Homo sapiens: one gene and its partners. The protein of the gene in region 1 purifies or fractionates together with the protein of each later gene. This does not show direct contact. Each region holds a gene or a part of one and is shown in the gene's direction. Other genes may lie near its edges. The genes, in order: SPATA19, VDAC3, RSPRY1 and RHEB.

Region 1 (8,463 bases):
TTCTAAAACTGATAAAAGAATTTAGCAAAGTTCCCAGATACAAAATTAATGTACACAAATCAGTAGGTCTTTTATACACCAAGCGACCAAGCGGAGAATCAAATCAAGAACTCAACCCCTTTTACAATAGCTGCAAAAAATTAAAATACTTAGGAATATACCTAACAAAGGAGTCAAAAGACCTCTACAAGGAAAACTACAAAACGCTGCTGAAAGACATCATAGATGACACCTACAAATGAAAACACATCCCATGCTCATAGATGAGTAGAATCAATATTGTGAAAAATGACCACATTGCCAAAAGCAATCTATGAATTCAATGAAATCTCCATTAAAATACCATAATCATTCTTCAAGAGTTAGAAAAAACAATTCTAAAATTCATATGGAAACAAAAAAGGAGCCCACATAGCCAAAGCAAGACTAAGCAAAAAGAACAAATCTGGAGGCATTACACTACCTGATTTCAAACTATACAGTAATGCCACAGTCACCAAAACAGTGTGGTACTGGTATAAAAATAGGCACATAGGCCAATGGAACAGAATAGGGAACCCAGAAATAAATCCAAATACTTACAGCCAACTGATCTCTGACAAAGCAAACAAAAACATAAAGTGGGGAAAAGATACCCTTTTCAACAAATGGTGCTGGGATAATTGGCTAGCCACATGTAGGAGAATGAAACTGGATCCTCATCTCTCACCTTATACAAAAATCAACTCAAGATGGATTAGGGACTGAAATCTAGGAACTCAAACTATAAAAATTCTAGAAGATAACATTGGAAAAACCCTTCTAGACATTGGCTTAGGCAAGGATTTCATGACCAAGAACCCAAAAGCAAATGCAATAAAAACAAAGATAAATAGCTGGGACCTAATTAAACTAACGTGCTTTTGCAGGGCAAAAGGAACAGTCAGCAGAATAAACAGACAACCCACAGAGTGGGAGAAAATCTTCACAATCTATACGTCTGACAAAGGACTAATATTAAGAATCTACAACAAATTCAAACAATCCCATCAAAAAGTGGGCTAAGGACATGAATAGACAATTCTCAGAAGAAGATACACAAATGGCCAATAAACATATGAAAAAATGCTCAACATCACTAATGCTCAGGGAAATACAAATCAAAACCACAATTCAATACCACCTTACTCCTGCAAGAATGGCCAGAATCAAAAAATCAAAAAACAATAGATGTTGGCATGCATGCGGTGATCAGGGAACACTTCTACACTGCTGGTGGGAATGTAAACTAGCACAGCCGCTGTGGAAAACAGTGTGGAGATTCTTTAAAGAACTAAAAGTGGAACTACCATTTGATCCAGCAATCCCACTACTGGGTACCTACCCAGAGGAAAAAAGTCATTATTCAAAAAAGATACTTGTACACGCATATTTATAGCAGTACAATTCACAACTGCAAAATCGTGGAAGCAACCCAAATGCCCATCAATCAATGAGTGGATAAAGAAACTGTGGTATATATATATATGATAGAATAATATTCAGCCATAAAAAGGAATGAATTAATAGCATTTGCAGTGAACTGGATGAGATTGGAGACTGTTATTCTAAGTGAAGTAACTCAGGAATGAAAAACCAAATATTGCATGTTCTCGCTGATGTGTGGGAGCTAAGCTATGAGGATGCAAAGGCATAAGAATAATACAATGGACTTCGGGGACTTGGGGAGAAAAGTGGGAGGGGGTGAGGGATAAAAGACTACAAATGTGGTGCAGTGTACACTGCTTGGGTGATGGGTGAACCAAAATCTCAGAAGTCACCACTAAAGAACTTACTCATGTAACCAAATACCACCTGTACCGCAACACATATGGAAAGATAAAATTAAAAAATTTAACAACAACAACAACAACACGTTCATTACAGTGTTATTCATAGAAGACCCAAACTGGACACCATTTAAGGTACATCAACTGGTGAATGGACAAACAAAATGTGGTATGTCCATGCAGTGGAATAGTATTATGGGGTAATACCCCATAATAAAAAGGAGTGAATTACTGACACATGCTACAAGGTATGTAGATGACCCTCCCAAACATGCTTGGTGAAATAAGCAAGACATAATACGGTATAGTTCCATATGTATGAAATGTCCAGAAAAGGCACATCTCTAGAGATAGAAAGCAGATTGGTGGGGCTGAGAATGGAAGCCGAGGTTGCCTGCAAATGGGCATGACAAACATTTCTGGAGTGATGGATATGTTCTATAATTGAATAGTTGTGATGGTTGCACAATTCTCTGAATCTACTAAAAATTATTTAATTATACATTATGATGGGTAAATTTTATATTATTTAAATATATCACAATAAAACTGACTAAAAATTAAGAGTTTCTGTTCCTCAGAAGACAGTACTCAAAGAGTGAAAGGCAAGTCATAAATTGAGATAAAATAATTGCAAAACACATATTGATAAAGGACTACTATTTACAATACATTAAAAAATCTACAAATCAATAAGAAAAAGACCAACAATTCAATGAAAGGGCACAAAGCTCGAGGAGGCACTTCACAAAAAAGAATATCCAAAGTGACCAATAGGCAAATAAAAACATGCATGATGCCACTGATAATCGGTTAAATGAAAATTAAAGTATTATTAGTTACCACTACATCTCTACTAGATTGGCTAAATTTAAAGGAGCGACAATACTAAGTGTTGGAAAAAACGTGGAGTAACTGTCACTTTCATACATTGCTTATGGGCAGTAGATTAATACAACCCCTTTGCAGTACTGTTTGGTGTATATGAATGCTACACATATCTAAAGTCTATGACCTAGCAACTCTAATCCTTGGTATATACTCAGAAGATTTAGTGCTTATGTCAACCAAAAGATAGGTACAGTATAAAAATTTTCATAGCAGCATGATTTTAAACAGCATCAAATCAAATATAATACAAATGTCCTACTAAAAATGTTTTCTATCTTGATCTGGGCAGTGGTTAAACAAGTAAGTGTGTGTGTGTGTGTGTGTGTGTGTGTATGTGTGTGTGTGTAAAAATTTTTCTCCGCTGTATGCATATTTGTACATTTTACTGTATGCATTTTATAACATTGTAATCAAAAAGCAAATAGATTTATGTATGAGCTTCATTTTGACAACATAAGCACAGGATATGTCGTCGAGAAACTAATGAAAATTTTACTTCTGAAGTGAGTTAGAACAAGGTTGAAGGTATGGGGAAGAGATGGAACGTCCTTGAATGTATCTGTTCATGTTTTGATTTCTGAATCACATTAATATTTTAAATATTCAAAAATAAAATTACATCAATAAGGATGAAAACATAAATTTTAGGGGATAGCTGTAGAAACAGAGATGTTGACAGGTAATTTCATCTGCTATTTTACAATTTCCAGTCTTCCTTGGAATTAGGTAGGGGCCATAGGACTAGTTCTAGATCAAAAGCTCTAAGTAGGAGCCTCTGAGCTGAAAGGTGGAACACTGACCTGATTCCTCTCTGTGCTCTCTTCCCTGCTTTGGCAGTCATGGAGGTCGTGTCCTCTGAATGTGGACCTGTGAGTCTCCACATGGCACACAATTGCTCTGAAATTACCCAACTTGCACGAGAGCTTTTGAGAGTGAGAAATAAACATTTTGATTTGGAGGTTGGTTTGTTGCCTCAGTCCTCAGCAGAGCCTAGCCGATTCTGACTATGTCAGGGATGATATAAAATTGAGGCGAATTGTTGAGAGGGAAGACGTGTAGTGGCTGTATCAGGGGAATTGGAGAAAGTGATAAAAGGTTTTCTATAATCCTGAGAAGAATAAACGTGGGAAAATTTTTGGAATATTAGAGTTAGAAGAAAGCTAGGGACACAACTCTATCCCTTTCAGTATAAGACAAAGAAACTCAGACCAGAGGGACTAATGATTAGGTCAAGAGCACATGACAAGTTGTTGCGGGACAGGTTGTTACTGGTGGAGGGTGTTCAGGTTCTTGGCGTCTTAAACAAAGAAATGGACAAAACACACAAACGAAGGAAAGAATGAAGTAACAAAGGCAGAGATTTAACGAAAATAAAAGTACACTCCACAGGATGGGAGCAGACTGGTTACAGAATTTTCTGGGGTTTAAATACCCTCTAGGGGTTTCCCATTGGTTACTTGGTATATACCCTATGTAAATGAAGTAGTGGCTCATGATCAGTCTGATTGGTTGCGGAAAGTGACCAATCAGAGGCTGAAGTGAAGTTATAAAGTTATATCTCTATGCAAATGAAGACCTGGCCCACAACCAGCCTGATTGTGGGAGGGGAGCAATCAGAGATACTTTCAGTTTTTCATCTGCCATGCAGAAAAGGAGAGGGTTGCAAAGGGCGTAGCCTCTGGTCTTTTTGTTACTTGGGCACGGAAAGTTGGGGTTTTCCTTTTGATTTAGTTCTAGGAAGTCAGTGTAAATCGGCCTTAGGTTTCCTGGCTCCAGACCCCATCCTCCTGCCTGGAGGTGAGCTCCCAAATTAGTGCTTTCCCAAGAAAAGAATTCAAGGGTCAGCCAATGGTGTTAGACAGCAATCTTTTATTCAATGGTTCTGCTCCTTGAAGCAGGGTAACTCATAGGAGTGCACCCAGAGCCTGAAATGCAGGGGCTCTTGGCAACGGCATTTATACTCACATACATCATTTTCAAAGGGAGGCCATTGTCACATCACCATGGGTCAGCCAATCAGGTGGACACCTCCCTTCAATGACCTTCCTGTCCCATAGGAGTTCTCAGGCAGCTTCAATGGAAGGAGGGAGCCAAGAAGGGGGCCTGGTATACATTCAAAGATGATAATTACGACATGGATTGTGTATATTCTTGCTCGGAAAGGTGTAGGGCTTCCCTTCCTACCAATAACCAGTTCGGTAAGCAGCTTGGTGGTAGTCACATGGAATAATTTTTCATATATCTTCTCCCCCTGTGGGACCCTGCTGCACTTCATAGAGATCTTACAAATAAATTTGAGTAACAGTTGCGGGGGCTGGGTGGGAAGAGCTGAATTTCTAGGTTTTCTGAGGTCACCAACTTGCCAATTTGTTCCAGGACATTGACGTTGTGGAAAGTGAGGCTGTGTCTGTACTACATCATTGGTTGAAAAAAGTGAGTAAGATTTCTTTATGACTCAGGATATCCAAAATGCTAGAGAAGTGGTCTCAGTGGGTGTGGGGATCTGGACTTCCTTCTTCATGGAACTGGAACTCAAGTTCATTGCCAGACACCCTTCCTAGATTTGAGTCTAATTTCTTCACATGTGCTGGAGGACACTGTGGCTTGTGTCCTGGCAGGAAATGTGTTAGCACCACCACTAACGCCGTCCTGCTTCTCAAGCATCCTGGCTTAAGGGTTTCAGCTGCATCCTTCCCAGCTCAAGGGTGTCTCAGGAACACCTTGGGATAGGGCCAGGGACTTAGGGAGTTCTGAGGACTTTACAGGGAAGTAGCTTATTGTGGGAACAGTGAGGTAAGGAGTGTATGTGTGTGAATATGTGGTGTGTGAGTTGTGATGGAGAATGAATAAAAGGAAAGGAAGAGGAGAAGAAGACCCAGGGTTGGATGCAGAGTGACATTTTCAGAGGGAATTTCTCACCTTTCAGACAGAAGAAGAGGCTTCTCGGGGCATAAAGGAAAAGCTGTCCATCAACCACCCTTCCCAGGGTGTAAGGGAGAAGATGTCCACTGACTCCCCTCCCACCCATGGCCAGGACATCCACGTGACCAGAGATGTGGTAAATGAGAGTTTGAGACCTTGCCTGGGAGTAGCGGTGAGGGAGAGGGGAGAGGTGGGAGGTGCACCGTAAATGATTCTGGGCAAGGGTGAGGTGCTCGTCTGGGCTCTGTGCCAGCCCAGTTGGGGGCCACACTGGGCAGGAATCACATGGACCCTCTGGATTTCCCAGGTGAAGCACCACCTCTCTAAGTCTGATTTGTTGGCAAACCAGAGCCAAGAGGTCCTAGAGGAGAGAACACGAATCCAGTTCATAAGATGGAGGTAAGGTGTCCCACTTGCCCTGGGCGAAGGAAGGGGAGGGAGAGATGCGCAAGCCCCTCTCTTCACGAACCCTCAGATGCTCTTCTCTAGAGATGTCGTCTTTGGCTGACAAATTCCTCAGCCTTGCTTTGGGGTCTTAAGGGAATATCCTTGCTATCTTGAAAGCCCAGCTCATTTCTACATTTTTAAATGACTTGAGGGGTTGGAAAACTGGGCTTGCACTCCATTTCTTAAATGCTTCTGAATACATTTCAGATTTCTGTTATTTTTGCACTTGAGTTGCTCAGAAGTGGCTGCACTTTAAAGAGCTAAAAGAAAATAAGCTCTTAAAATGCAAAAGCCAAAGTTTTCATCTGCAACTGAGGTGTGGGGAGGCTTCCCAGCGCCCGAGGCTAGAATTCTGCACTCGGTTATGGTGGCTTCGCCAGCGTCCCGGGTGCCTGCCAGCTCACAGCCGTCCCCACTGCCTCTCGTGGCTCTGCAGATGCTGAGCCCCGAGGCCCAGGGAGCTGGCCTGAAGCCATCATGCTTCAGACAGAGGCTTTCCTATTTCCTTTCCTGCACCTGTGTTCACTGGGGGTCTCTGGAGCACATCAGCCACCCCTTCCCAGGAGAGGGACTGAGGGCTTAGACTGGTCCTACGGGAACCTGAAGGAGACTTCTCCCCTTCCTCCTCTCTTCCTCCTTTCCCTGCCGCATCATCGATGTTGATCTGTTGTATCAAGGAGGCTCCATTTCTCAAGAAACGGTTTCCATGTGCTTACCCCTTCTAGTGGCATCTGCCTTTTAGGAAGACTCAAATGCACAGTAATTTCATAACCAAAAGGAATAACATGGTGGGATCTGAGAGCTCCCTGGGAAAGAGTTTTTTTGGATGGGAAGCCTTCTGAGGCCCCTAAAATCATAAATGTTGTTGATTATAATCCAGGCTTTTCTGTGCCTGACGTGGTTGTGCTATGGAATTGCGGACATTGTGCTCCTTGGTTTGGATAACACACACATCATCTTCCAATATTTTAAAAATCTCGTCTGTATAAAAAAACTAGTTTTAAGCTTTTCAGACAGGCTACAGGAATCAGTCAATTATTTACATATAATTTTTCCACTCTGGATTTTCTACAAAGATTTTAAACCAAAAGCCTCCGCCTATCTCCCCCCACAACCCACTGGTTTTGGTGTCCCCCTCTTATTTCAGTAAGTATATAGTCAGGAAATATATATATCCCTTTATGAAACAAAGCAAGGAGGCTCCCCAGGGGACCCCACAGCTTCCTCGCTGTAGGCTTTCCTAGAAGCATCTCTGAACCACAGTGGGTGTGGGGTGATGCAGGTCATCAAGAGCTGATGATAGGAGAGGAATTCAGAAGACTGAATTCAGAAGGGTGAATTCCACGGCTCACGAGACCACTGCTTGCTGCCTTTAGTAAGGGCACTCAGCTCTGTGTCCCTGGCTCTCCCCGGGACAGTCTGCTACCTGTTCAGCATTACTGGGGGCTCAAGGGTACCTGGTTAGTAAAAAAAAGCTTTGTGCTCATGAGTCAAGAAGGGGGAGAGACCAGCTCAAAAGTTCATGGTGTCAGGGCAAGAGTCATTGTTTGCAGGATCCCATCTCTAGCAGCTCTCTATGCCTGTTAAGAAAGAAACTCAGATCCCATATGCCAATGTACGAATGGCCTTTTGCAGCCACACTCGTATCTTCCAAGTGCCAAGTGAGATGACAGAGGACATCATGCGAGATCGAATAGAGCAGGTGAGACGAAGGTAAGCTGTTTGGAACTGCTTGATTTGTGTTCCTGACTGGGGGCAGGTAGGGTGGGGGTGACTGCTGGGTTTCCCGCCCACACCCAGCAATGCTATCTCTGGTATGCCAACATCAAGAGCAGAGACACACAGTTCCCAGGGCTGCGTCTTGTCTTCTGTGCTCCACATGACAGGGCTTTGCCAGCCTCCCATGGTGTCTGCCAGTGCACAGAAGGGCTTCAGGCTGTGGGCCTGTTCATATGACTGTGCTCCCAGGCCCAGTGTGGCCACGGCCTAGGCACGGCCTGCCCTCCCACCGCAGCCCCTGTGCCGTGGTCTGGGTAGGCTCTGCTATCAGGCAGCCTCCCTCCACCTGGCCCTTCTCCTCTGTCCCCTGCAGCATATCCCGTCTTACAGATGTCTCAGCTCAGGACTTCAGTATGAGACCCTCCTCCTCAGACTGCTGAGAGCAACAGGTGAGAGAGCTGACGGATGAGGAACTGGGCAGAGAAGATGGTTATCCTGGGCAGTGGGAAGGGGCACTGCAGCTGGGAACTTGGTAAAGAGGCTTAGCTTTTCCCTACTGGGGAAGGGCCTGCACTCAGGGCCAGTAGTGGGAGAGGAGGGCTGGCTGCCTTAGGCTCCCGCAACGCCTCTCTTAAGTTTGTGGAAGGACTTGAAGTCAAATTTGATTGGTTTCCTG
Region 2 (8,460 bases), on another chromosome or scaffold:
TCTCACGGGAAAACTGTTTTATTCTCAGTATTCTGGAAAGGTCTGTTTTTTAAGGAGCAGACTGCTGTCTCATACCTTTGATTGCATTAAAGCATTAATGATACACAGGAAGAGAAAACTGTATACCCCTTCTCACAGGATTAAACAGCAGAAGAACTGTGGGTGAATAAATACTAAATGGTTATTTTTATTCCTTTGCCCTGTTTTTCTTTATAAGATATGTGTAACACACCAACGTACTGTGACCTAGGAAAGGCTGCTAAGGATGTCTTCAACAAAGGATATGGTAAGTATGCTATTGTAACTTTCCAGTTTGGGGTAAAGGTTAGTGTTGAATGCCTACTGTGTGTAAATACTGTGTTAGTAAAATAAGGGTAAGTCAGCATTATTCCACTTCACAAGATTTAAGGGGATAACTATTAACAGGCTATTAGACCTCATTCTTTAGAGGCAGAACCCCTTACAAGCATTAAAAGCAATTATATACATATACAGATGCATATACATGTCCATATTTAATGTTATCTGGAATGTAGAATAATATATATAACATTTATGTCTCTTTGTCTGGCCCTGAGGACAATTAAATTAGGGGGTAGAACTTTTCCTCCCTCCAAACAGTGGCATTGTTTTTATGAAAGTGACAACATAACTTTTGACTTCTTTGGAGTAATGTATATTCTGATCCTAAATAAATATTTTTTAGGTTTTAAAATTTAACTTAAATTTATGTGCTGTACATATTTGATTTTTTCTTATTAACTAGTAATGTTAACTATATTTTAAACGATATATATAGCAGCACACTATTTTCAGCAATTTTGATTCTTGGAATAGTGCATATTCCTTTCATTTATTTTTTTCTTTAACTTACATTTTAAAAGTATATCTTTATTCATTTTGAGTGCTTGAAAATTATACTGCATTTATTTGGTTATAATTCAGTTTCTTGAGGAACTCTCACCCAATGAAAATACTATGCATTTTTCATATGGAAGGTACTATAGGCTATTTCATAATTTCTGAGTTGCAAAAACTAGTGAATGTCACATTTTGTACATTACTGTGTTTTTGTGTGTGTGTGTGTATAGGCTTTGGCATGGTCAAGATAGACCTGAAAACCAAGTCTTGTAGTGGAGTGGTGAGTATCTAATATATTTTTAATGAATGTAACATAATTAACTTAAAGGAATCTGTTTAAAATCATGACAGTCTAGTTACTTGAACCAGCACCATGCTGTCTTCCCCACAGCTTTGTCCTCTCAGATTTTAAACAGCATTCTTAGCCAATTAAAATAAACAACCAAGTTGAATTTTTGAAGAGACCTTTTGTGTTTCTCAGAGTATACTACAGCTTTCACTCAGAAGATGTAGAATATATATTTTTTGACCCATGTCATATGTTTATACTTTCATGAATATGTATATGGGCACCAAAAACCTCACTTCCATGATAATGGGTTCATGGAAATTTTATTACCCTTTTACAAAAACAAATTAACTTTACTCTGCCCCTTCATGATTAGTCGAAACAAAATATGTAAATAAAATGTATTTCTGCACGTATGCATGTACATTATTCTACAGTTTTTAACTGATGTTTATAAAGTTTTTTTTATTGGAAGTAAAGACTACAGTAAAGGCTATGTTGGCATATTTTCAAAGTATCATTAACAATAGCTTTTGGCTGGGTGCAGCGGCTCACACCTGTAATCCCAGCACTTTGGGAGGCCGAGGTGGGCGGGTCATGAGGTCAGGAGTTCGAGACCAGCCTGGTCAACATTCTGAAACCCCGTCTCTACTAAAAATATACCAAAAATTAGCTGGGTGTGGTGGCACGCACATAGTCCCAGCTACTCGGGAGGCTGAGGCGGGAGAATCTCTTGAACCTGGGAGGTGGAGGTTTCAGTGAGCCGAGACCAAGCCATTGCACTCCAGCCTGGGTGACAGAGTGAGACTTTGTCTTAAAAAAAAAAAAAAAAAGGCCAGGTGCGGTGGCTCACGCCTGTGATCCCAGCACTTTGGGAGGCCAAGGCGGGCGGATCACGAGGTCAGGAGATTGAGACCATCCTGGCTAATATGGTGAAACCCCGTCTCTACTAAAAATACAAAAAAATTAGCCAGACCTGATGACGGGTGCCTGTAGTCCTGGCTACTTGGGAGGCTGAGGCAGGAGAATGGCATGAACCCAGGAGGCAGAGGTTGCAGTGAGCAGAGATCGTGCCACTGTACTCCATCCAGCCTGGGCAACAGTGCAAGACTCCGTCTCAGAAAAAATTGCTTTTATTTAATAAATCTCAGCAAGTAGGTTAAGTTTTAATTTACCTTACTCTGATTTCTCCTCATTGGCTGCATCGTTTTTGGTATTTATCCATTCAAACCCATGAAAATTTTATTTCTGAATGTATAATTAGAAGGACAAAGACATGTGGAATTCTAATGATACTGTGTATAATCATGGTTTGTGACCATCATTCTTTCCCTGGGTTTCTCTGGAGTAAATAAATATATATGCACCTCCCTTACTAAGATGGGCACGCTGTGTATATAGTTCTGTTAAAATAGAAGAATCATTCTCATTTTGTGTAGGTTCCAGAATTTGCTCATTAGGTTTGTGTTGCAAAAATTATCAACTAAAATTTTATCTCCCTTTCATGCTGCTGTTGTGTGGTAATATTCATTCAGATGGTAAGAAAAAAAAGCTTATTCGTATGCTTGTTTTTATGGCTGCTTTTGGTTTCTGGTATTGATTTAGGATAAATTTCAATCATTGTTCCAAATTTCTTAGATTGTGTCTTGATATTTTTCTCATATGCTATCTACTTAACAGTAACATTTTTGTTTGTTTTGTTGCTTACTAAGCATTTAATGTAGAGCTATATGCATGTTATATGCATGTTATAAATGTGTTTTGCACTTGTTTGACCAAATTATGAAATTAGACACAAACTGAACTGTGAATCGTGAGCCTGGAACTCAACTTAGAACAATTCTAGCCTTTTTTTCTGAGATTTGTACCTGTGGCATTTTAGATTCGTGACAGACCTTCAAACTAAGAATTGATGCTGACAAGGGAGAAATGTAGACTACCCCTCTACCTTAATTTTGTGCATAAGGTTTTTCTAGCACCAAAATTAAGATTTGCATTTGTTATACTTGTCAAGTTTGTGAAAAGTAAATGTAAAAAATAAAACACTAGATAGTTGGATCTACTAAAAGAAAAATGATTGTCACGTTAAAATAATTATGTGAACAGTTAAACATGATTAACATGTTATCATTTTTTTTTTACTAAGGCCTTCCCCTAAATGTGCAGCATGATACTCTCTTTGAAACCATTCTGTGTGGTTTGATAAACAGAACATAACTTCCCAGTTGTCTCATCTGCCTGTAGAACTAGAGTTAGGGGACAGGGCATTTGTTAAGGAGAGGATTCATGTTGCAGGCAGTGAAAAAGACTGGTCAGGGTTGGCAGCATCTCATTACTGTTGGCAGGATTTCAGAAATGCTCCCTAAAACAGGACCAATCAGAATGTTTTTTCTTGACAGTTCATAGATTGTCAGTGACAGGTGCTGTCTGCTTTCCCCAGAAGGAGGTCCATTTCTAATTGCTTATTGTCATATGACTTAAAGGGCACTGAACTAGGGCAAAGGATGTATTTTATTTTATTTTATTTTTTTGAGACAGAGTCTCATTCATAGTAACTGTTTGATAGAAAGCACTCTTAAAGGTAGACAGGATAGAAAGGGGGAAAGAAGGATAAATTATAGCATTCTACTTTATTTTGAAAAATGGGTAGTACTTTCAAATATTGAAATTGTCTAAGCAGAAGTTTTGCAGTTTTGCACACAAAAGCATTAAAGTTTTCACAGCAGTGTGACTGTACTTAATGCCACTTCACTGTACACTTAAAACATTATTAAAATGGTAAAATGTATGTTACATGTATTTACCACAATAAAAAAAAACATTTTTAAAAGGAAGTAGTAAAGTGTTGACCCTATTAAAAAGGAGGAGGGCAGTATTTTGGGATTTTTAAGGACCTTGAAATTAACTGATAGTTTGAAACATATAGCAGAGAACTGATAATCTTTTTTTAGGTCATGAAAGTAAAATGTTTAAGATACAATATTTTTGGTCTTTTTAGTAAAGGCATTTGTTTTCAGTAAAGATACTTCTTTTTTAAAGGAGAGAATTTAGGATTACCATTTGGTAAGAGAGTATATGGAACAAGAGATATTAATAAGAGAAGTAGAGTAATGGAAAGATCTGAAACTGGTATTGAGCTGTCTCACTCCGTTGCCCAGGCTAGGGTGAAGTGGCATGATCTCGGCTCACTGCAACCTCTGCCTCCTGGGCTCAGGCTGGGACTACAGTCACGTGCCATCATGCCTGGCTAATTTTTTGTATTTTTTGTAGAGATGGGGTTTTGCCATGTTGCGCAGGCTGGTCTTGAGCTCCTGGACTCAAGGGATCCACCCGCCTTGGCCTCGTAACATGCTGGGATTACAGGCATGAGCCACTGCGCCTGGCAGAACTGGTTAAAATATTTAGGGACTGGAAAAGCAAGGGGAAAGGAGGAAAGAAGTTGCTCTAGAGTAGGGCTGTGGCAAGCAGTAAATGGTATTGTTTTTGATACATTGAACACTGCTTTCCAAAGTGAATATTTTCTATTTGATGAGCTAATTTTAAAGTAATTATTTTTTCTTGCTTACCAGGAATTTTCTACTTCTGGTCATGCTTACACTGATACAGGGAAAGCATCAGGCAACCTAGAAACCAAATATAAGGTCTGTAACTATGGACTTACCTTCACCCAGAAATGGAACACAGACAATACTCTAGGGACAGAAATCTCTTGGGAGAATAAGGTAAGAGAACGCATTAGAAGTTATTCATAGGTTCAATTTATCTTGTAGATTGAATGATGAACATACCCCAAATATAATCAAAAGAGATCTTACAACCTATCTAGTAGCCATATTTTTTCTCTGCATGTGGCCTTTTTTGATGTCTTATGTTTCTAGAAAATAAGGCTTTGTTTGTGAGTACTCTAATTACTATATTACATCTTTGTTCTGACTGGTTCTCTGTTACACAGCTAAGCTTCTCCTGGGTAGAACAAACTATTTGCGGAAATTTGGTTTAGTTTTGTAATTGTTGAAAAATTGGCTTGACAGAAAAATTTTTCTAAAATGTTCTCATGTTTTCAAGGAGAAAATCTATTAGATATAGTCAAGTGCCCACTATGTACAGGGCACTGTTTTTGATAGAGATACCATGTATAGATAATGTACATGCAAAACTGAGTAAAATGACTTAGCCTGCTTGTTAAATGTCAGGTTATCTCATTACTGCTCTTTCAAGAGAGTATCAAGATGATTTTGTTGTATGGGAATTCTGTTTGGTTTTGAACTGTATTTTATGTAACTTGCTAAAATAGGATTTGCCCCATTTTTTAGTGGGAGAACCATGATGAAGGCTGGGGTGAGGGGACAGGAGGATGGAGAGCTTACTTATTACATAATTTAATATTTTGCTTTCTTGAATGACTCCTTTTTTTTGTTAAAGAACTCAGGAAACTTTAGAATTGGTTTCTTGAGTTGGATAAATGATTGAAAATTACTAATTATTTATTTTAAATCTTTGTTTTTCAGTTGGCTGAAGGGTTGAAACTGACTCTTGATACCATATTTGTACCGAACACAGGGTAATTATTCAAATCCCATTTCCTGAAACGTTTTTGGAGCCTGAAAGGGTAGAGAGCTTTAGAATAAGGAGATATAGTGCAAAGTTCAGAGGCAGGAAGAACTCAGAAGGTTGCTATAAGGAATATTGGAGACCTTGTATAGGTAATACAGATAAAGGAAGATCCCTCCCCACCAAGGCAGGATGAACAATTTGAAAACTGAATAGATGAGCAAAAATGTATAAATGTATTTGAGAGAGACACATGGTAGAAAAAATTTAGGAGCTAGAAGAGTCTTGAGACCATAGATGAATCTTAAGCAATTCTGAAGATTGATGGACATGGTATTCTGCTGAGAAAGTTAATTCCTTTTGGCTGGGCGTGGTGGCTCACGCCTGTAATCCTAGCACTTTGGGAGGCCGAGATGGGCGGATCATGAGGTCCGGAGATGGAAACCATCCTGGCTAACACGGTGAAACCCCATCTCTACTAAAAAATACAAAAAATTAGCCAGGCATGGTGGTGGGCGCCTGTAGTCCCAGCTACTCAGGAGGCTGAGGCAGGAGAATGGCATGAACCCAGGAGGCGGAGCTTGCAGTGAGCCGAGATGCACTCCAGCCTGGGCAACAGAGCGAGACTCTGTCTCAAAAAAAAAAAAAAAAGTTAATTCCTTTTTTTTCCCCCTCACCCTCTCTTATGGTGCTGAAAAGTTAATTTCTTAAGAAGGTGATCTGGCTCTCAGATGCTATAATGATTAGTTCTGCTGCCTACTTGATTTCTTAGCCTCTGTAAATCCCCCAACTTCTTGACCTCAATTTCCTCGTGAAAAAAAGGGGGATTGTGTCATTTCCTATCTGCCTAATGTGGGTCCATGCTATCTGAAGGACGGAGGTTGCTAGATGAATGCAAAGTGACATTTGTCTCAGCCGTAACAACAGGTGTGTTCTTTTTGCCACACACTTCAGTTATCTTTAGGACAAATATTCTTTTCTTTTTTTTTTTTTTTTTTTTTTTTGAGATGGAGTCTTGCTGGAGTATAGTGGCACTATCTCAGCTCACTGCAAACTCTGCCTCCTGGGTTCAAGCAATTCTCCTGCCTCAGCCTCCCAAATAGCTGGGACTACAGGCATGCACCACCACGCCCAGCTAATTTTTGTATTTTTAGTAGAGACGGAGTTTTACCACGTTGGGCAGGATGGTCTCTGTCTTGACCTCGTGTTCCGCCTGGCTCGGCCTCCCAAAATGCTGGGCTTACAGGCATGAGCCACTGTGCCCGGCCAGGACAAATATTCCTACAAGAGGCTTGATTGGAATAGGGTTATTAAGAACTAATTTCATTTTTTCAGTATTGTCCTTCAAAAAAGCATGCTTCTCTCCATGATAGGTTAATAATGTATATTGGGGATTAATTCTTTGTGGCATTTGGCATTTGGAAACATTTAAAGAGATTTGGCTTCTTGTACGTCTGTATACATACACCTTCAGATTATTAATTTGGCACTGAAATATCTTATTCATTCTTTTTTTTTCTTTTGAGACGAGTCTCGCTCTGTCGCCAGGCTGGAGTACAGTGGCATGATCTTGGCTCACTGCAACCTCTGCCTCCCAGGTTCAAGTGATTCTCCTGCCTCAGCCTCCCAAGTAGCTGGGACTACAGGCGTGTGCCACCACGCCCAGCTAATTTTTGTATTTTTAGTAGAAACGGGGTTTCACCATGTTGGCCAGGATGGTCTCAATCTCCTGGCCTCGTCATCCGCCCACCTTGGCCTCCCAAAGTGCTGGGATTACAGGTGTGAGCCACCACACCCAGCCTCTTATTCATTCTTATACTTTTGTTCATGCTTTTATGAAATAAATCATGAAGTATCCTATCATTTGAACTTATAATGAGTAATAGATGATAGTAGTCTATACATGTCTAATCCTAACAAAATTATATTTGTAGAACTAGGTCATTTGAAATGTTTTTACTATATATGTGGCATGTACCAAAATAATATTTACATTGGGAGATGAGAGAGAGGATCTTACTCTAAAAATTCCTAGACAGTAGTAAGAACTCATGTTGTTTTCATCATTTGCTTTTGTTTGTTTGTTTATTGCAGAAAGAAGAGTGGGAAATTGAAGGCCTCCTATAAACGGGATTGTTTTAGTGTTGGCAGTAATGTTGATATAGATTTTTCTGGACCAACCATCTATGGCTGGGCTGTGTTGGCCTTCGAAGGGTGGCTTGCTGGCTATCAGATGAGTTTTGACACAGCCAAATCCAAACTGTCACAGAATAATTTCGCCCTGGGTTACAAGGCTGCGGACTTCCAGCTGCACACACATGTGTGAGTGTTTATAATTTATTCCTTAGTATCAGTGCAGTTGCCCAAAATATTGTAGCCATTAGCATGCTGAGAAGTGATGGTACTCAGATTTAGCATGCCTTGGTGAATATCCATCCTTGCGGTGCTATCCTCATAGCAAAACCTTGCCAGGAGGCTGGTGCACGTGGTGTGCAGGCTGTGCTGCTGGTGGTCACTGGCCCCTCAGCCTGCACCCCAAACTTGAGGAAGCTCCAGCCTCTGTAGAAGAACCACTGGGATAGAGGGAGCCCAGAGCATGGCTTACCTCATGGTAAGATGACCCTTTGGAGATGTTACTGCTTCCTCTGCTGCCCTCTCATCTTGACAGTATCTGGAAGCAGGTCTGTTTTGGTCACCAACAACCACCACCAAATTGATCTGAGCATCCTGGGACATCCCGGTAATTCTGTGGAGGTTTC
Region 3 (7,000 bases), on another chromosome or scaffold:
GAGTAATATTTCTCTTCTAATTCCACTGAATTATAAATTTTGTTTATATTATTCCTGGTCAGTGCTCAAGGTATGAGGAATTAATTGTAACTAGCCAGATGTTGTGTAGAGACTACACACTAGCATAGTCTATTCCTTATGTGGCCTGTTCTCCAGCTGTCAGCCTGTTTTGTTTGTTTGTTTGTTTTTTTACTTTTTGCTACCAGCCCATGTAAGTCTCCTATTTCTAAATCTTTACTTCCTTCCAGAATCTAACCAGATTTTACCAGCTTCTTGAAGAGCTGGTTCTTTCATTAGGTTTTTAATGATAAACATACTTTGTGGGATGAGAATGGCCATCCATGAATTCCTGGAGGGCAGGAACTATTCCTTACTCATCTTTATTCTCCTAGTCCAGCGTGGTACCTGGCACAAGGTCCTTAGTCAGTATTTTCAGGCAAAGATAAATTGGTGCATCTTATTCTGAACTTTGTAATAGACATGTGCAACAAACTGATCATTGTGAAAATACAACTTTTGTGATATCAGTTTTCCTTTCCCAAAACAAAGCCTTGCTTACATAACAGAAACACTTTGCAACAACTTGTATGAATTCTGTCAGTTCTTGAGTGAGCTTCCAATGGGAAACTCTATCCTTTTATTCTCCTTGATATCAAATGGTGCTATCATATTTGTATCATAACTTTTTTTTAACAACAAACGTCTGTAATTATTTTATTTAAAACTTGTTAAATTATCCTATGGGTTTAAAGAAAGGAGTTAATTCATTTTTTTAAAGATTTTTCTCTTTTTAACACCTACCTCTTACACAGAAAGACAACTCTTTTTTTATGATAAAAGGAGCCCTTGAAAAAAAATGCACACATCCTTCTAATGTATTTCTATATAGACAGGAAAAACTATACATGTGGTTTTAAAAAAATCAATGATAACTCCTCTGGTCTATAAGAATATGGTTTGGCAATCAACTTTGTAACAGAATGATAAAAAGAAATTATTGATTGATTGCGAATTCTGTTATCCAAAGCTATCTCTTTGTATTGGAAACCTATAAAAATAACCAAAGATAATTCTTCATTAGAATCCTAATATCTATAAAATCAGACTAGGAAAATTTGAGTAATTAAGTGGTCAAGAATCTTTTATTCATTTTCCTTTTTCTCATTTTCTTTTAGAACTGCCATTGGATGTCCAGAATCCCCTGTAGTTGATAATGTTGGGAATAAGCTCTGCAACTTTCTTTGGCATTCAGTTGTTAAAAACAAATAGGATGCAAATTCCTCAACTCCAGGTTATGAAAACAGTACTTGGAAAACTGAAAACTACCTAAATGATCGTCTTTGGTTGGGCCGTGTTCTTAGCGAGCAGAAGCCTTGGCCAGGGTCTGTTGTTGACTCTCGAAGAGCACATAGCCCACTTCCTAGGGACTGGAGGTGCCGCTACTACCATGGGTAATTCCTGTATCTGCCGAGATGACAGTGGAACAGATGACAGTGTTGACACCCAACAGCAACAGGCCGAGAACAGTGCAGTACCCACTGCTGACACAAGGAGCCAACCACGGGACCCTGTTCGGCCACCAAGGAGGGGCCGAGGACCTCATGAGCCAAGGAGAAAGAAACAAAATGTGGATGGGCTAGTGTTGGACACACTGGCAGTAATACGGACTCTTGTAGATAAGTAAGTATCTGACTCACGGTCACCTCCAGTGGAATGAAAAGTGTTCTGCCCGGAACCATGACTTTAGGACTCCTTCAGTTCCTTTAGGACATACTCGCCAAGCCTTGTGCTCACAGGGCAAAGGAGAATATTTTAATGCTCCGCTGATGGCAGAGTAAATGATAAGATTTGATGTTTTTGCTTGCTGTCATCTACTTTGTCTGGAAATGTCTAAATGTTTCTGTAGCAGAAAACACGATAAAGCTATGATCTTTATTAGAGAATAGAGTAAATATGGAGTGAGTTTATGTTGCTAGCTACAATAGGAAATGGTTTCATGAAGGCTCACTGTTAATGGTACATGCCTGTCTATTCCACTGACCTCAGATTCAAGGTAAGTTGTTTTACCAAGAACATGGCTACAGGCAACTTCTCTTGGCAACATAAGGACTAAGGTCAAGGAGAGTTTTCATTATCCTTTATTTGATCCTTTATCCCTTATTTGACTATCTTTAATCCATTTAGGAAGCTTGTCAGTTGATACTGCAAGGCACACCTGTACCTGTTTTGTCTTTTCCTCTGCTTTGTCTACCTCTAAATACAAAATCATAGATTGAATAACAGTGAAATTAAAGGGCATCCAAGTAGAAAAAAACATTTAACTTAAGGTTGTATATTTCAGTAGTTAAGAGCACAAAGCTTAGAACCATGATGGGCCTAGCTCAAGTTCTGGCCCAGTGCCTTACTAACTGCATGACATTGGGTAAGTTACTTCTTGAAGCCTCAGATTCCTCATCTGTAAATGGGGGGATAATATTGTTCCCACAAGGATTATCATGAGATAATGTACATAAGGCATTCAGTGTGGAGCTTTGTACTTAACAGTTGCTCAGTAGATGGTAGTATTTTTTAAAAAGTTACTTATGTGTTCTTTTTGCTTCAGGCCCTGCTAGTAAATTTAAGTATATAAACATTTGATAATCGCATTTATAGAAACCCAGTTTCGTTTAGTTCCTCAAAAATTAAGCATAAAACAGAGTGTACCTGTGAATACAAACGAATTTTTAGAGCTGTATTAAACTTTTCCATAAAATACTGGAGCATTTGTTAGTCTTCGAGAAGAATAATTTTTTGGCCAGACACAATGGCTCATACCTGTAATTCCAACACTTTTGAGAGGCTGAGGTAGAAAGATAGCTGGAGGCCAGGAGTTCAAGACCAGCCTAGGCAACATAGGGAGATCCCATCTCTGCAAAAAAAATTTAAAAATTATCCAGGTACAGTGGCACTTGCCTGTGATCCCAGCTACTCAGGATTCTAAGACCGGAGTACTGCTAGAGTCCAGGAGTTTCCAGCTGCAGTGAGCTATGATCACACCACTGCACTCCAGCCTGGGCAATAGAGCAAGACCCTGTCTCAAAAATTAATTAATCAAAAAAAATTTTTTAAATCCCTTGTACCAAATTGTAATAAAAGTTATCCTTCCCAAATAAGGAAGTAAACCACAAACAATGTTAATTTAAGCTCATTGGAAAAATGGGTGCAGAATAGACTTTGAGAGAGAGAGTTTTTTTGTTTTGTTTTGTTTTTAAAGAGACAGGGTCTCACTTTGTCACCCAGGCTGGCGTACAGTGGCGTGATCATGACTCACTGCAGCCTCAGCCTCCTGGACTCAAACCATCCTCCCACCTCAGCCTCCTAAGTAGCTTGGACTACAGGCGTGTGCTACTGCACCTGGCTAATTTTTAAAAAAGTTTTTGTAGAGCCAGGTCTTGCCATGTTGCCCAGGCTGGTCTCAAATACCTGGACTCAAGCGATTGTCGAGCTTCAGCCTCCTTAAGTGCTGGGATTGCAGATGTGAGCCCCCACGCTTGGCCCCTTGCAATATTTTAAAAGAGAGTGACATAGTTATACAAACCTCTTTGTTTTTAACTTTTCTCAACATCGAAATCTGTGTTACTGTATATAAATCTACAACTGCTTCTGACTATTACAGAGTATTCCCTTGTATGCCTGAAAGTATTATATTTTGTTACATTTTCATCTGGTGATGGTCACTTAGGTTACTGCCAAATTTTTGTTCTTACAAACAGCACTGCAGTGAACAGCGCAAATATGCATTGATTTTTGGACCTGTGTAAAAATTTATCTACAACTGTTGGGTATATGCATACTTAATTTTATTATTGCCAGATCATTCTTCAGAAATACTTGCATCAGTCAATTATATTGTTTAAACAGGCAGCACCTAATGAGTACCTGAAATGACCATACTAATTCCCATATCACAAGGTTATTCTCTGGATTAAATGACTTAAGATGATAGTTTTTGGGGCTTTTTTTTTTTCCACACTAAAACAGAGACCCACAATATGTAAACAAATAAGTGGTGAGTTCTTAAGCAGTTAGAATTGTTTAATGGAAAACATCTCATTATTGAAGTTCCCCTGAAGGACTTTTTAAAGATTTCTGGGATCACACCACTGAATTAAGGTGTATAATGCCACTTTGGAGCAATGTCTAGAATGTTAAGTAGTTCCTTAAGTTTGGTTTTGTTTCTTGTAATACCATTTTATGAAGTCTAAGCATGTAGTGGTATTTCCAGAAGAAAACTTCAAAATGAAGATGCGTATATAGGCCCTTGCTTCCATAAGTCCTCAACCGGGATTGTCGTCTCTCTTCCTGGCATTTCTCTGAGGTAAGTATGAAGGTGATGTTGACCTTCCTGGCTTGTCTCAGTTGGCACTGGGCCTCTGAGTGTAAAGCTGAGAGTAGGCTGTGATCTCCAGTTTTACTCCTGTGCTTTTACCCCAGGACACATAGTAGTCTTTGTCTGTATCCACCTGCCCATTTTGTCTGTGGGTCATTGTGGACAGTGACTGGAAATGAGCACATATGGTATACATTCATCCTTACAGGTCATAGCTCAGGTTGTCTCTTCTATCTCTTTCCTTACATTTGTGTTCATTTCTTCTGTCCCTTTTTACCTCCACACCTCCAGTTTGAATTCTTATTTGGAATTGTCATTTATTATTTCCTCAGGTTTAATGCCTTGAATTTTTTTTTCCAGTGATCAGGAACCTCCCTATTCAATGATAACATTACACGAAATGGCAGAAACAGGTATTTTTAGTTTTGTTTTCATTACTTTATAATGAATATATAATAATGAAGAAAAGTAGCCACCTTTTGTTTTTTGTTTTGTTTTGTTTTGAGATAAAAGACTCCAAAAATACAGCATACATAACAATGAAAAAAGCCCTTACTGTATGGAAATTTCCCTGAATAGGTATAATAGGCAATGCATATTATACCTTTTTTTTTTTTTTTTTTTTTTTGGCATTGATGGATCTTTCACCATACTGTTCTGGAATGGAGAGGAGATTATTTATATATATATATATATATATATATTTTTTTTTTTTTTTGAGACAGAGTCTCACTCTGTTGCCCAGGCTGGAGTGCAGTGGCACGATCACAGCTCAACTACAGCCTCAACCTACCCTGGCCCAGGTGATCACCCCACCTCAGCTTCTCAAGTAGCTAGCACCACAGGCGCATGCCACAATACCCAGCAATTTTTCTGTTGTTTGTAGAGACAGAATTTCACCATGTTGGCCCAGCCTGGTCTTGTACTCCTGGGCTCAAGGGATCCTCCTGCCTCAGCCTCCCAAAGTGCTGGGATTACAGGTGTGAGCCACAGCCCCTGGCCAAAGATATTTTTTGTTCCTTAGTTTCCTAAGTATCATTCTGAAAACAAAGCCAACTGCTGAGTATACTTCATTTTCTCAGTTAACTCCTATGTAGTAAATAAGATGCTTAAAACTATTTTAATGTGAGAGCACAAGACCATAGCTTAACCTTTTTCCAAATAAAGGTACCCACAAATCACCAGACTCCTGTAACTTAAGATGTTTTTACTCCACCACGATGACTAGCAATTGATGATTATGTCCATGCCAAATATTAGCTGCTAAAAATCTATAGACCAAAAGTCTTTCTTTTAATGTGAATTGATCTCGTGTGACATATTTTCACATTTTAAAAATAGTGACTCCATCATATAATCTTCTTGATTTGCTCTTAGATGAAGGATGGTTGGATGTTGTCCAGTCTTTAATTAGAGTTATTCCACTGGAAGATCCACTGGGACCAGCTGTTATAACATTGTTACTAGATGAATGTCCATTGCCCACTAAAGTAAGTTAATACTTATCTTTTATGAAACTATCATTTGTGCTTAAGCACAAGATAAATGACCACAAAGAACATTTGATGTATTGTGTTTCATCTTTATACATTTGGGGTCTGTTTTATTCAGTATTGATTTTGTTATGTAAATTTATTTTGTATTATGAAGAATTATGTCCTCTTTTTTTTTCTTTTCCTCTTTGAGACAAGAGTCTCACTCTGTTGCCCAGGCTGGAGTGCAATGATGTGATCTTGGCTCACTGCAACCTCCGCCTCCCGGGTCCAAGCGATTCTCCTGCCTCAGCCTCCCAAGTAGCTGGGATTACAGGCACCCGCCACCACACCTGGCTGATTTTTGGATTTTTAGTAGAAACGGGATTTCACCATGTTGGCCAGGCTGGTCTTGAACTCCTGACCTCAGGTGATCCACCTGCCTCGGCCTCCTCCCAAAGTGCTGGGACTACAGGCATGAGCCACTGCACCCAGCCCTCTGTCTTTTTATTTATTTATTTTGAAACAGGGTCTCACTTTGTCACCCAGGCTGGCGTGCAGTAGAGCAATCACAGCTCACTGCAGCTGCAACCTCCCTAGGCTCAGGTGATCCTCCCACCTCAGCCTCCCATGTAGCTGGGACCATAGGTGCATGACCCCATGTCTGGCTAATTTTGTATTTTTTTTTAGAGATGGGGTTTCATCATGTTGCCCAGGCTGGTCTTGAAACTCCTGGGCTCAAGCAGTCAGCCCACCTCAGCCTCCCGAAGTGCTGGCATTGTAGGCGTTAGCCACTGTGCCCCGCCACATTCTCTATCAAGGCTTTATTTAATTGCTTTTTTTTCTTCTTTCTTTCTTTCCCTCCCTCCCTCCCTCCCTTCCTCCCTTCCTCCCTTCCTTCCTTCTTTCCTTCCCTTTCCTTCTTGCCTCCCTTCCTTCCCCGGCCCCGCCTAGGCTAGAGTGCAGTGGCACAGTCATGGCTCACTGTATCCTCAACCTCTCAGGTTCAAGTGATCCTCTTGCCTCAGCTTCCCATGTTGCTGGACTACAGGCATGCACCACCACACCTAGCTAAATTTTTTTTATTTTTTGTAGATAAAGGGTCTCACTATGTTGCCCAGGCTGATTTTGAACTCCTGGGCTCAAGGGATCCTCCCAC
Region 4 (8,460 bases), on another chromosome or scaffold:
TATATTGACTTCATGAATAGTTAGGCCACACCACTGATTTGAAAGCATTGCTGGTAGAGATGGTTTGGATTAGATGATGAGAATCAGAAAGGGAGACCACTGGGGAATACTGTGTATTGATTGATAGGTGGGAAGAAGGGCAGGTGCCAGAGGAACAGCAGTCTGGGTGGTGACCAGGCACTTCTTGGTGTGCTCAGGAGGTGGGTTGCTGAAGTTGCATGGAGAGGATTACTGGTGCAAAGGCCAGTGGGCTTTCAGGCCCACTGTTAGCTTGTGTCCATGGTCATCAAAGCCCCTTAAAGTTATGTTGTGAATTTGAGGTGGTGAAAGCAGCCCTGGAATGGGTTGTGTCCTAGATGCATTACATCGGTTCTAATGGACTCCCCCTTCTGCAGAATGCCTTGATAGACTAGTTAATAGATTGAAAATCTGGTCTTCCCCATCATATCCCAATGAACAAGCAATGTATAAACTGGGAAAATGCTGGGCTTGTAGGGAGTCGGTGGGAGGGGGGACAGACCGTGGCTGGAGTGCAGTGGCACGCTCAACGCACACTGCAGCCTCAACCCTTCGGCTCAAGCGATCCTCCTACATCAGCTTCTTGAGTAACTGAGACTATATGCACACATCACCACACTCAGCTAATTTTTATATTTTTTTTGTAGAGATAGGGTTTTATCACGTTGTCCAGGCTGGTCTCAAACTCCTGGGGTCAAGCAATCCACCGGCCTCAGCCTCCCAGAGTGCTGGGATTACAGGCATGAGCCACCACACCGGGCTAATAAGTTATTTTTTAGGAGAATAAGCATGATAACAAAGTCAATATTAATCTGAAAACTTAAAATAATTCTGTAAACAGTGCCTATTTTGCAGTAATCATGAGGTATAAGATTGAGTCAACACCCCTGAAAGTACACCTTCTGTAGTGAAAATACCAGCTGAGAAACTCACTGTGCCATTTTATCATTGGAAAAAATAATACAATGCTGTTCCCTGATAAAAGCTCAGAAGAATTTTTTAAAATAATTTTTATTTTTAAAAGTTAAGGTGGGTTTTGGTTTGGAGGAAGAGTATTTGACAGTTAATTGTAGGAATTGAGATACTGCCTTTTAAACCATTTATAGTAATTTATGTCATTAAATGAGTGATTTGTGTTTGAGGATAAACACACATCTGAGTATGGGCTACTTTTCCATTTATTTGGGATCACTCCTGTGTAGTTTTCATGTAACATTTTTCCAAAGAGTTGATCTGGAGTGTGAGATTATCTTCAGCAAGCGAGTAACAGTGTTTCCAGACCTGAATTTGCTAAGGACAAAAGCCAAAGTAAATATATGAAGTTATTGAGAGAAAAAGGTTAAAGGTGATCACAGTAGAGATCACCAATGCCTTTTTGTGGTTGCAAACAAACTAGAAAAACCTAACCAAAAGATCTGAACTACGTCTCCAGAAGACACTCCTTAAAGCCAGAAATTACAACTGGAACTGAGAACACTTGAAAATGAGCGGTGGGGTTTATTTATGAAGATTCATTAGCATTTAATGCTGACTTGTCAAGATTTCAACACTAGTTAATAATAGCACTTTTTAATGGAAATGGCAAAAAACAGCATGTTAGCAAATATAGCCTTCCTATCCCTTCTGGATTAGTTAAATAATTAATGACCTCACCTTGGCGGGAGAGCCCCAGGGAGGAGAGACCCAAGGGAAACGTAGTTTTTCTCCAGTGCCACTTCTGCTAATGAACAGTACCTTTCTCCTAGGGCCAGTCTGATTGAAAATCCAGTTTCCACCCTGGAGGAATACGTTTTAAATTCTGGTATCCCAGTTTACTATTCATGAAAACAACAGTTGGCTGTCAACCTGCGATGTGATTTTGGTTAGACTACATTGTCTGTTACCGGAATGATTACTTATGTTTTCAAGTGAAATGTTAATTTAGCCTGTCAAATAGTGTATGCCCATTGTGATACAAATAAGGAGCTCTTCTCTCACTCCGTTTTTGCACTTGATCTCATGCTGTCTTGTTTAATGTGTGTAACTTTCTTTTCTGTTCAAATGTGGCTTCCTGAATTTCACGGGAAACTCCTGAGGCTCTTTTCCCCCGTCCCTTCACTCCCGCAAGTCAGGTTGTCGAGACTTGGCCAGTGCCAGTTCAGAGGACTGTCTGATCCAGGGGTTCCTGGTTGCCCAGTGCTTGGGGAGCTTATCCCATGTATCATACTTAGCCCCTCTTTCACTATTTTTAGTCCAGTTCTACTACACAAAATGTTGCAAAAATCTTTTTAATTATATTATTTCCTTTTTTCTTTGTAACTCTTGCCCATATCTTTAGGGAGAAAATGATCGCTTTCTTTCCTTTCTTTCCATTTGTAAGCAAAACAAAAACCCCACAAACCCTTATCCTACCCACATAAGGGTATAAAAAGCCCACTGGAGTCCTTAGAAGTACCTTGCAAAAGCCCTTAAGAAGTTTGTTCCCTTCTTTCTTTCTAATTAAATTTCATTTCTTTAAGCAGTAGCATTCAGTGTAAATAACAGTTTGTTTTTTTTTTACTCCTTCTAATTTTTCAGTTTCAATAACATGAGAGGAGTTTTCTTCTTGCTATTTTTGTTACCTGAAGTAGTTCTGCTGTATTTTGAGTTAAATTCTCCTTTACAGGCTAGCATATATAACATGGTTTCTTTTCAACACAATTCATTTTAAATTTGTGGAATTCTTAAACTATTGTATTCCTATATCACAGGCAAGCCTGTGATTAGGTACCAATAAATACTAATTGAATTGTTTCTTAATTTCTGTTGAACTGTGTTTTGTATTTCATTTGTATAAAATTGAGATCTTTTGTAGTATCTAAATGGCTAAGAGTGACCTTTGGAGATCTACGCTTTAATTTCGTTCATTTGTTCAGAAATCTCAATGTTTACAATGTGTCGGCTGGCCCTGTGCTGGCTTCAGTGGAGTGTTCACTAAATGAATATCATTCCAAATAACTTAATAAAACAGTAGCTATGAGAATGACTTTTAAGGAATGGGTACTACCTTAGGGTGGTCTTGAAGGTTTCTCTGTGAAACTAACATTTGAGCTCAGATCAGAATGACAAAGATGAGTCATATATTCAGAGATGGGGGCAGTGGGGGTTGCTAGAGTAAAGGGGCCAAGGCAGGCAGGAACTCCAGGAGCAGAAGGGATGTGACTGGAGCCTCAGGATGGGTTGTCGGGGGCTGTTGGCGGATGAGGTCAGAGTGGTAACCAGAGCAGGGATGGCCTGGTGTTTGTGGGCCACGGTTAGAAGCTGGGAATTTAGGGCAGGCGCGGTGGCTCACGCCTGTCATCCCAGCACTTTGGGAGGCCGAGGCGGGTGGATCATGAGGTCAGGAGTTCGAGACCAGCCTGACCAATGTGGTGAAACCCTGTCTCTACTAAAAATACAAAAAAAATTAGTCAGGTGTGGTGGCGCGTGCCTGTAATCCCAGCTACTCAGGAGGGCTGAGGCAGGAGAATCGCCTCAACCCGGGAGGCAGAGGTTGCAGTGAGCCAAGATTGCACCACTGCACTCCAGCCTGGGTGACACAGCAAGACTCCGTCTCAAAAAAAAAAAAAAAAAATGTTGAGAATTTATTCTAATTGCAATGAGGATTGGAAGCAGAGAAGTAGCGTTTAATTTTCAAATGCTCATGTAGGTTGCTTTGTAGAGAATAATTTCAGGTATTAGTAATTCTAGAGACATTTTGAACTGTATTGGGCTGCGGATAAGGAGTAAATAGGTCTACCAACTTGTGGCCTTTCCTTCTCAGCAACCCCTACTTTTTTTCTTTTTTTTTTTTTATAAGACAGAGTCTCACTCTGTTGCCCAGAGTGGAGTGCAGTGGCGCCATCTCAGCTCACTGCAACCTCCGCCTCCTGGGTTCAAACTATCCTCCTGCCTCAGCCTCCTGAGTAGCTGGGATCGCAGGTGCCCATCACCACGCTTGGGTAACTTTTTTTGTATTTTTAGTAGAGACAGGACCAACCATGTTGGCCAGGCTGGTCTCGAACTCCAGACCTCAGGTGATCCACCCGCTTCAGCCTCCCAAAGTGCTGGAATTACAAGCATGAGCCACCACACCCGGCCAGCAACCACTACTTTTAAGCCAACTTTTTAATAATTTAAATTTTAAGGAATGCCTTTGGTGTGAAAACATTGTGCAACTATACCTATCCATAGTTTGGAGGAGAAACAAGCATAAATTAAACCCAGTAGTGTAAGATGGGTGTTACCATGCCTCTCCTTCACTCTCACTGCACGTCCTGTTGTGATGGAGTTAAGTATGCCAGGCATATACAGCATGTGTGTAATAATGCTCCAAGGATGCAAGAGAGAAGGAAGGGTTTGGAGGTGAAATTAGGGAGAGACCACTTCCTCATTCCTGGTGATAAAGTCATCTGAACTATGCATCTCATGCGATTTCTTCACAGGGCATGTACCCTGTTCTAAAGTCCTCCAGTAGACATTTTAGGTAGCAGAAGAGTGAGAAGCTAAGGCTCTAGTTGTTGATTTATTAACATACAAGTTCAATTATTGGCGATTTTGTGAAATCCATAACATTTCTTAATTTCTAGATACTGCTAGGCCTTTCATACTGAATGACATAGGATTTCTAGCTTCAAAGGAGTTTTTAAGATAAAGACTTATGTTACATATTTTCAGATTACCCTTTTTTTTTTTTTGACACAGGGTCTTGCTCTGTCGCCCAGGCTTGAGTGCAGTGGTGCAATCTTGGCCCACTGCAGCCTCTGCCTCCTGGGGGCAAGCAATTCTATTATCTCAGCCTCCCAAGTAGCTGGGATTACAGGTGCCCGCCACCACACCCAGCTAATTTTTGTTAATTTTAGTAGAGACGGGATTTCGCCATGTTGGCCAGGCTGGTCTCAAACTCCTGACCTCAGGTGATCCGTCTGCCTCAGCCTCCCAAAGTGCTGGGATTACAGGCGTGAGCCATGGTGCCTGGCCGGATTACTCTTTTTAAAAGCTGTACTTGGTAACACTTCTAACCGTCATATATGAATGAATACAACGAAACTAATCATTTTAATTTTCATATTAAAATTAAATAGCAAGATTCCAAGAATACTAGAGGAAATTAGCTTACTTTAAACCTTTTAGATTATCTTTAACAGAATATCTGATGTGCTTGTTGGTCAGTAATATTTGTTAATGTCACAGACATGTTTACTTTGTAATAGCTTAATTGCATAATATCCTCATATAAAGCAAATTAATGAAATTTATTTCATTTTTTGAAATTGCTCACATGCTAATTAAATGAATGTTTTCTGACCCTGATACCTTCAGTGTCTTCATCTATTAATGGTTTTTTAATAAAACAGCAAAATTAAAAATTTTTACCTTCATATGCCAACACACACTAAGCTCTTGTTCTCTTTTATAGGGAAATCCTCATTGACGATTCAATTTGTTGAAGGCCAATTTGTGGACTCCTACGATCCAACCATAGAAAACAGTAAGTATTGTTTTCAAGTACTTAAAAACTGAGAAGCCTTCTTTTGTGTAAAATAGCCATTGTGTATTCATGGAGGCTTTGAGTGCAGGAGGTAAATTCTGTGTGTCTCCCAATTGGGGTCAAAGAAAACTTGCAAAAGATTTACCTACTTTACCCTGAAAGATTTTTCCTTCCATGTCTGCATCCCCTGCCATCTAGAAATTATTAATTCAAGTCAGTAGGAGTCTGGCCCATTACTGGAATCTTCAAATTCCAGAATCTGCTCCAAAACAGGAATGGAGAGCACAGTCTTCTCCCCCACACCCCCTTTCTCCCAGCCATTGCAGTTTCCAGGGATTCCAAGCTTGAAAGAATGAAAAACACTCGAGATCCCTGTTCCTTATTCTTACAGAAGCCGTACTCCCACCCACATTTCTCTATACCCTTCTTTCCAGCCCTAAAGATTTGAAAGAGAAATGAACTATTCTGGGATTGGATAGAGCAGTTGCAGCATTAAAAAGAAGTTGGCTCAAAAAGCCTGTTGACATTTTAGGCCATGTGCAGAAAAAAGCAGGGAAGACAGAACCAGCCATGACCTTTACTTTGTTCAATTTTAATCCATGGTTTCAGAATATTCCTGATGGATTCTAGGACCATGAGACTATTTATTTATTTTATTTTATTTTTTAAAGAGACATGAGTCTCACAGTGTTACCCAGGCTGGACTCAATATCCTGGACTCAAGTGATCCTCTTTCCTCAGCCTCCCAGGTGGCTGGAACTACAGGCATACAACACTGTGCCCAGCTTTGAGACAGATCTTGATTCTAGGGATCGCCAAGGATAATCTGAAGCAGGGAAGCTGGTCTTTTCAGGCTTAGAACCCCAGGTGGGCCCTGGAACTAGGTTTCTCAGATTCTTGAGACCAGGACTTATCTAGGATTTGTCACCAGGAACATGTAGATTTAAACATGGGATTCATCAACACCTGATTGGCATATTAGACACGAAGCATATTTCACCGGCCGGAGGCTTGCAAGAGAATCACTTGAATGCTTTGGCTGACAGTAAAGAGCTTGGCAAACGACAGCCTGCAGGCCAGCAAGGCCCATTTCCTGTCTTTATACAGACCAAGAGCTAAGAAAGGTTTTTCCATTTAAGCATAATATATAAAAGTCCAAAGAAGAATAATGTCTGGCATGTGAAAATTATATGAAATTCAAATGTTAACCTCTATAAAGTTTTATTGATACACAGCCATGCTTGTTCCTTTACATGTTGTCCTTTACATGCTGTACAATGGCAGAGTTGTTGAATAGTAAGAGCAGAGACCAGGTGGCCTACAAAGCCTAAAATATTTACTGGTACTGTCTGGCCCTTTACAGAAAAAGTTTGCTCACCCCTCGCTTAAAATATTTGGCTGTCCTTTGTGTTCCAGTGTGCTGGTAGCAGAGAAGGAAACCTGTTGGTTGATAAACTAACTCCAGGAATATTTTTGAAAGTAACCTTTCAAGATGTTATATTTGAAAGTAACCTCTGGGTATCTACAGGGAGGAGTCCTGATTACATCCTATGATTTGTCTAGCTGGTCATTATATAATAGTAAGCAAGTGTGAGGAGCAGATTAATGTGAGTGCTGGATGAACAAGCTCGGTTTTCTGTCCACTGGAATAAGAACATAAGAAAATCATCATCTTGGACCTTAATATTTGCTATACAAAGCAATTTAGGATTTTAGATCCTTGAAATAATAAGGTTCATTTTGGAATTGTATTAACAGAACAATAGAAGATTGTTTTCTTCGTAAGCTCTGCCTCTAAAAGTGGATATTGTGGCTGTATCCTCATGCCATTTCATACTGAGCTGGAATTAGCTGGGCGTGATGGTGTGTGCCTGTAGTCTCAGCTGAGACAGGCGGATCACTTGAACCCAGGAGTTTGAGGCTGCAGTGATCTGTAATCATGTCACTGTACTCCAGCCTGGGCAGCAGAGCAAGATGTGGTCTCAAAAGTAAAAACTGAGTTGGAAGGAAAGTCATGGAGTTGTGTATCATGGAGCTATATATACATACATTTTCTTAGTAAGTAATGGATCAGAAGAAAGTCCAACTTATGTAACTTGATGTTATCTCAGAAACAGAGTAATATGACCCTACTTTTTTGAGGCTATCAACATCATCTTTGGTCATATTTTAAATTTTTTCTCATCTTACAGTTCAATAATGAAGACTTCTTTACCTCAAAAATGAATTCAGAGTACTTGTTTATTAAAGTCTGTAGGCAGGAGCAGAAATAAATATGAATATGTATCCATTAAAAGTTCGTGAGGCATGTTCAGACATTATATTCTACTTACCACACTTCTGATAACCTAACACAGGGCAGGAGCCCTTCGCCCACCCTTTCCTCCACTGTTTGGTAGAAAAACATTGTTCAGTGATAACAATGAATTAGAAAGAAAAGAAAAGGTTATCATGAACTTGTTGCTAGCAAGATAAATAAGTGGGTGGTTTCATGATTTTAAAAAACTGCTCTGTAGATCTGGAAATAATTTAGTAGTTATTTTACACTTTATAATATTAGAACAAGCTGTTATAGCAAACACTCAGTGGTGACACATTTCAGTGAAGTGTCATGGTGAGCAAAAATTCTGGGACTGTGTCATCTTTAACAGTAGGGGTGTAGGAGAATAATATTAATAAAACCACATATTTTCTAGTTTGGGGAAATTTTAAAGCAGAAGTACTACTTATGCAAGTGTACTTCATTATCTACTGTAGTGTTAATCTAACAACTCAATACAAACTAAATTGATAGGCTGAAATTAAGCTAGTGGTAGTTTATAACTAAAAAGCAAGCATAGCAGCAATTTCCGACTTCTGCCATCTCAAGGTAGCACTGTTAGTGAATGACAAAGCGCCTTCCAGAAAGTTGGGAGGTTGCACTTAGGTGTTGCAGCATTCTCAAGGCACTGCGT

What was found.
Region 2: the proteins of SPATA19 (region 1) and VDAC3 purify together in Homo sapiens (affinity purification with mass spectrometry; 2 studies listed by BioGRID and IntAct, with this or other methods). This does not show direct contact.
Region 3: the proteins of SPATA19 (region 1) and RSPRY1 purify together in Homo sapiens (affinity purification with mass spectrometry; 2 studies listed by BioGRID and IntAct, with this or other methods). This does not show direct contact.
Region 4: the proteins of SPATA19 (region 1) and RHEB purify together in Homo sapiens (affinity purification with mass spectrometry; 2 studies listed by BioGRID and IntAct, with this or other methods). This does not show direct contact.

Annotation. Positions count from the first base shown.
Region 1 is NC_000011.10:133,841,803-133,850,265, reverse strand, and holds the start of SPATA19 (spermatogenesis-associated protein 19, mitochondrial precursor), read left to right. Parts: upstream 1-4,752; 5' UTR 4,753-4,819; coding exon 4,820-4,897; intron 4,898-5,075; coding exon 5,076-5,132; intron 5,133-5,625; coding exon 5,626-5,757; intron 5,758-5,928; coding exon 5,929-6,020; intron 6,021-7,703; coding exon 7,704-7,781; intron 7,782-8,160; coding exon 8,161-8,227; 3' UTR 8,228-8,236; intron 8,237-8,463.
Region 2 is NC_000008.11:42,393,993-42,402,452, forward strand, and holds part of VDAC3 (non-selective voltage-gated ion channel VDAC3), read left to right. Parts: intron 1-217; 5' UTR 218-219; coding exon 220-286; coding exon of another isoform or gene 287-318; intron 319-1,091; coding exon 1,092-1,141; intron 1,142-2,685; coding exon of another isoform or gene 2,686-2,688; intron 2,689-4,719; coding exon 4,720-4,872; intron 4,873-5,658; coding exon 5,659-5,711; intron 5,712-7,795; coding exon 7,796-8,023; intron 8,024-8,460. UniProt on the Homo sapiens protein: Non-selective voltage-gated ion channel that mediates the transport of anions and cations through the mitochondrion outer membrane and plasma membrane.
Region 3 is NC_000016.10:57,203,329-57,210,328, forward strand, and holds part of RSPRY1 (RING finger and SPRY domain-containing protein 1 isoform 1 precursor), read left to right. Parts: intron 1-1,175; 5' UTR 1,176-1,330; coding exon 1,331-1,680; coding exon of another isoform or gene 1,681-1,684; exon of another isoform or gene 1,685-2,053; intron 2,054-4,264; coding exon of another isoform or gene 4,265-4,357; intron 4,358-4,729; coding exon 4,730-4,782; intron 4,783-5,746; coding exon 5,747-5,859; intron 5,860-7,000.
Region 4 is NC_000007.14:151,487,989-151,496,448, reverse strand, and holds part of RHEB (GTP-binding protein Rheb), read left to right. Parts: intron 1-5,434; coding exon 5,435-5,506; intron 5,507-8,460. UniProt on the Homo sapiens protein: Small GTPase that acts as an allosteric activator of the canonical mTORC1 complex, an evolutionarily conserved central nutrient sensor that stimulates anabolic reactions and macromolecule biosynthesis to promote cellular biomass generation and growth.